Linked DNA regions of Homo sapiens: region 2 is linked to region 1. A link means that fine-mapping ties the variant in region 1 to the expression of a gene that starts in the linked region. Tissue or cell type: tibial nerve. Region 1 holds a variant in brackets; the other region holds the start of a gene. All regions are shown on one strand. Distances are between the middles of the regions.

What was found. PIP is the estimated chance that this variant, and not a neighbour inherited with it, causes the effect.
Region 2: C3orf70 starts here. The variant in region 1 is fine-mapped to the expression of C3orf70 in tibial nerve (GTEx, PIP above 0.99).

The regions. Positions count from the first base shown.
Region 1 is chr3:185,083,156-185,085,918 of GRCh38, forward strand. It overlaps C3orf70 (chromosome 3 open reading frame 70), which reads right to left. Exons shown (of 2, transcript NM_001025266.3): 2 at 1-408. Among named protein-coding and RNA genes, the nearest start is that of C3orf70, 69 kb to the right of the region's middle. The variant G/A (reference allele first, on the strand shown) is at 1,677.
Region 2 is chr3:185,151,481-185,154,243 of GRCh38, forward strand. It overlaps C3orf70 (chromosome 3 open reading frame 70), which reads right to left and starts at 1,580. Exons shown (of 2, transcript NM_001025266.3): 1 at 1,148-1,580. The coding sequence starts at 1,343. RefSeq lists a silencer at 986-1,205 and an enhancer at 1,626-1,765.

The DNA.
Region 1 (2,763 bases):
ATTCCACATAGTGAGCCCCAATCGCATTGATCCCAGAGTCCTCAGAACTTGAGGGAGAAGAGCAGTGATCTATTTTTGGTGTATTGCTCTCTTTTGAAATTAAGGCATCGTGTGCAGAGACCTCCTCAGGGCTCATTCTGTGGGAATGTGGTGCCGGCTGCTTCTGCACATAACACATCTTCCCATTAATACATTTAACCTGATAGTTGTCAATAAAAAGGTCTGAAATCATACAGTACCTCGGTGAGTCAGGGGGAAGGGGAGGCTGGAAGACAGATGCAAATTTCAAAAAGTGTTCGGTGAGCGAGACTGAGATCTGAATGGTGTTTGTGGGTTCCCGAGGCCTGGCAGGAATCTCAGTGCTTGGAAGCTGTTCCACAGGGGTCATAGGCTGATACATGTATTTGCCTGTGAAGACACAAAAAGACACTTGAAATCTATATTACACAAACTATATTAACATGGCCATAATGGTTTCTGAGGACTCAATGTCTTTAAAAATATTTCAGTAACACCTCAAAAGAAACTAGTAATAAAATCATTCAACATTGGTATAGTCAATGAAAAAGTCAGCATGGTATATAATAATTTTCATCTAAAAGACTCAATCGACTTTCTAAATCTCAATTTATATTTGTGTCTTTCTGATATCTCTGAAGTAGGTGGATAGACACTATAATCCTTATTTTACAGACAACTTTAAGTAATTTACTCATTATACTAGAACAAAAAAGGTCCACAATATAGCATGGTAAAAAATACAAGTTGTACAGCCGGGCGCAGTGGTTCACGCCTGTAATGTGCAGATCACTTTAGGTCAGGAGTTCCAGACTAGCCTGGCCAACGTGGCAAAACCCTGTCTCTACTAAAAACACAAAACGTAGCTGGGCATGGTGGCACACGCCTGTAATCCCAGTTACTCGGGAGGCTGAGGCACGAGAATCCCTTGATCCAGAAGCGGAGGTTGCAGTGAGCCGAGATCGTGCCACTGCACTCCAGCCTGGGCGACAGAGTGAGACCCTGTCTCAAAAAAAAAAACAACCAAGTTGTAAAACAGTATAATGTACTGTAAAATTATAATTCCATGTTTATCTCTAATAATGTTTGTGTTAATGTATATATTTTTCCAGTTTTTAAATGTATGTAAGTTTATCATCAGAATTATGGGAGATTTTCACTTTCCAGGTGTCTATGTTCTAATTATAAGATACATACACCTACATATTTATTTAATAGGTAGTGGCCCACTGGATTGTCCCGGCCACCCTCAATGACTGGGGTAAAGTTTAGGGTGGGAAATGGTTTCTCTGAGGACCAAAGCTCATCAGTGGCCTAATCAGGAGGTGTCTCCCCCGCACCCCTCCCCGACACCAATTCCACTGGCACTAAGCGACCTAAGCCAAGCAGAAGCAAAGGGCAAACACACAGAGGGATGCAGAGGACACCCTGCTGGATGTTTCTAGGAAGCCCACAAGCTTATCTCCAAGCCTTCCTCTCTGCTCTGAGCCCTCAACTGTTTCCCACATAGTTGACATGGAAGTAAAACCTAAATGGATTTGGTCCTCATCCCATTTTTCATTCAACATCTAGCAAAGCCTCCCACACGCTAAGGAAATAGGGCTGAAAATATCCAATCTGTAAGTCTAAAGTGATTTCAAAACAAAAAGCTAAAGCAG[G/A]GATGGGGGCTCCTAAAAATCCCAGAGACAAGTAGCCACAATTGTGGGCATCATTTTGAATTTTTCCTAATTTAGCCAATTTATCGGTTCATGTTGTATCTTCTGCACATTGTTGACAGGGCTTTTAACCTTAGCACTACCTGCATTTTGGACCAGATAATTCTTCATCGTGGTGGGGAGGGGTGCTGTCTATCCTAGGCAGCATCCTCGGCCTCTCCCCACTAGATGCCAGTAGCAGCTCCTTCTCAAATGAGACAAATTCCCCAACGGGTGAAATCACCCTGATTAAGAACCAGTGATTTATGGTATCTTCATGAGCATCTTTTTGCAGGCGAATTACTCATGTGTATGGTACTTGCTCCTGTTTATTTCTTTGTCAGACTGGAAATCCTAGGACAGGAATCACATTTGTAAGGAAAACTAGCTTAGGTTTTATAATGTTAATGATGCCACAGGAGAGTAGCAATTTCAGATTAGAAATGAAGTAGTAAAGAGGCCACAAATCATGCAACATCAGTAATCTCTTAAGATCAATCAAGCCTGCTTATATTTTTTGTTTTTTGACTCCTGCACAAAAAAGCCACTCAGGTACCACAATTTCTTTATAACCAAATTACTCTAAAAAGACCTTCATTTTCATCCTGGGGTACCATATGAAAAAAGTACATTTAAAGTCGTTAAGCCTCTGGGTTCCCAGGGTGCTTCCAAGCCTGGACGTACCTCATGCAAACCCCGCAGTCTGATAAAAACGCATTGAGAAGAACCCAGTCACACCTGCCTGGGGGAACTATGTTTAAAATATACCAGGCGTCTTCATTTCTCCAGCTCTTTAAAAGGTAATTACTACTTGTCAGGCAGAGTTAAAATCAGGTCAGATGTAAGAGGTGGTATGGTAGGACCTCTGCCCCTAAGCACTGTGGACACTATCGGCTGAAGGGCTAAAGAAGGCTGACCTTTAAGCCTCCCTCCAGACCCTCCAGCCCCAGGATTAGAGCAATGTATGGGCACGGGATAGAGAACGGACTTAGAGAACCTGGGGAACTACTCTTCTGTCCACAGAGTGGTAAATAAAACGCGGAATGAAGGT
Region 2 (2,763 bases), 68 kb after region 1:
AAATAGGAAGAAACTGGCCCATAAGCAAATGGAACACCAGAAATCAATACTGTTCTATGTGCCTGGAATTTGTAAAGAAAATGATCCTCTATCCTTGAATTCATAAATTCGATTTAAAATATTCATTTATGTTCGATTAATGTAAATAAGGATTTGTTATGTACTGCATTCCTGGTTGTCAGCTATTTTTTTCTCAACAAAGAAAAATTCATTTTAACTTAAGATCACTTGGAAAATGTCCTAAATAAGCACTCCAAAACCCTCTATTACAAATATATGTGGAAACTAACTTTAGAATATATTTCTTAAAATGAATGATTCATCGGATATAGTCCAAATACTATTAGCTAATCAAATTGTGAAATTCTAATTAAATGGCTACTTAAGTTTAATCTATTTAAAAATCACAGGCAGGAGGCTAAACACAGAGAAAGGGTTTAGACCATTTGGTTCTAGCTTTTATAAATTGGTTTAAGACTATTAAGCTTACTTTCACTCATTTTATTTTGTAATTTTATAAGTCTCATTTATTTGGCTCTAAATTCTACATCTGGGTATTTAAGGAGCTCGACCTTCCAAACTGTTAATATTAACTTCTTGGAAGCAATCCCTCCCACATTAGCGCTTTTTCTCAATTTGGGTACAATCAAGGGGGAAACAATTGGATATCCAAGGGCTCCTTCTTTTAAATAGCAGCCCAGGAAGACAAAAGTGAGAAAGAAAAAGAGGAGCATCTTTAACCAGCAACCTTGAAAAAAGGCATCCCCAACAGCTGTCGCCAACTCAGCTGGCTCGCTCCCATTTCTCAAAACACCGCCTGGACGCCTTGGTCAAAAAAAGAAAAAGAAAAGAAAAAAAACCAGATTCCCGCTTCCCTGGGACAGGGAGCTCCCTTTTGTAGAAGTAGCTAAAGAAAGCGAGGCGCCCCACGGGATTTCATCTCGTCGTCAAGGCAGCGCCAACCCCAGCCGTCCGGCGCAAGGAAAGCTCCGGCGGGCCCGGAGCCCACGGCGGCCCCAGCCTCCGGCAGAGCAGCCCCGGCAGAGCCCGGAGCCCCGCGGCCGCAGAGTTCCGGCAGCGACCCCGGACGGCCCGGCGGGCGTCCCCCGGACCGCGGCGGAAGGCGGGAAGACGCGGCTCGACTTACAGTGACACCATCCTAGGTGACAGCACCAGTGCAGCTTGAAGCACTTGCCATGGCTGTGCGTGGCACAGATAGACAGCCCGTCGCACGGCTGGAAGTCGGGTCTGCGGGCGGCGCAACTCCGCGCCAGGGCCTGAGCCTCATCTAGTTTCTCGCTCTTCCAACCCCGCTCCGACGCCGGCGAGGCCGCCGCACTCATTTCCTCTCCCTCCGCGCGGAGCCGACACCGGGAGCCCGGGAGAAGCGACGTCTGGGTGGGCAGGAAGCCGAGCCGGCTGCGGACGCGGGAGGGCGCGGCACGGGCCGGGAGTCACGCCAGCACGCGGCGGCGGCGGGAGCGCGGCGGTCCCAGGCTCGAGGAGGAGCCGCCCCGGGCGCTGCGACCGGGTCCGGGCTGGCAGCCTCCCTCCCTCCGGCGCGGCGCGCGCCGCGCCCCACGCGCACACGCACGCGCACAGGCGCGCGCCGGTCGGCCCCGCGCGACGTTCCTCAGCGAGCCCGGCCTTCTCACACACACGCCGCTGGGGAGCTTGGCCGTCGGCGTCCCCGCCGGTCACAGCGAGGTCCTCCTCACATACTCACTCCTTCCTCGGAGAAAGACCCCGACGGAGGGCCGTGGTGAACACACACTCCTCGGCCGCTTTGTACTCACATGCACGCCAGCCTACATATGCACTTCCCCCCGAGTGACACTGGCCACCGAGAACTGACACACGCGTCCACACGCTCCACGGAGGGCTGCGCACACCTGGCCCACGCCCACCCGAACCTCCTAGTGGCCCGGGCCGGGTGCATCGCGTAGCGAGGATCTCACACACACAGCCTGTCCCCACAGGCGTCTCACATCTCCCTCGTACACACCTCCCCGTGTCTGGGCATGGAGCCCCTGGGAGGCGCGCACACGCTCGTGCACACGCGCGCACTCCCCCCACCCAGGGCGGGCCTCCTGCCCCAGCGCGGCCACAGGGCGCGTCAGGGGCCAGCACCGCCAACCCCTGCCCGCCTCGCCCCAAACCCCAGGCCAGTGCGCCCGGGCCTTCCCGCGCCCGCCCCAACCTTCGCCGGGACCGCAGCCCCTCCCCCTTCTCCTCCCACCCCCGCCTCCGTTGAGCGGGAAAGCAACAAAGCTGGGTGCATTGATGTGTGTGTGTGTCTGCGTATGTGTAGTTTGGTGTGCATGGGATGTGTGTGTTGCGTGCGTGTGTATGATTATTTGGAGTATGTATGGTGGGTATGCGTGTGTGGTTGTGTGTGGTTAGGTGTGTTCATGGTACATGGTGGGTGGTATGCGTGATGCAAGTGACTGGTGAGGTGTGTGTATACGTGTGTATGTGAAATGAATGTTATAACTGAGGTGGAGTGTGGGTGGTGTGTGTGTGGTTGAGTGTGTGTGGCGTGCAGAATATGTATATGTGTGTAGTTGGACGTGCATGTGCTTGTGCACGTGTTGTGGGGGTGGGTATGCTTAGTAATACAGAGTGGTGTGTGTATGGTATATGTGTGGCAGTGCAGTGCGTGTATCTGGCATGTCGAGTGTGCACATGGCATATACGGATCAAATCGGGTGTGTGTGGTACATAGGAGTGGGTGGGCACACAAACAGGACTCATGTATGCGGA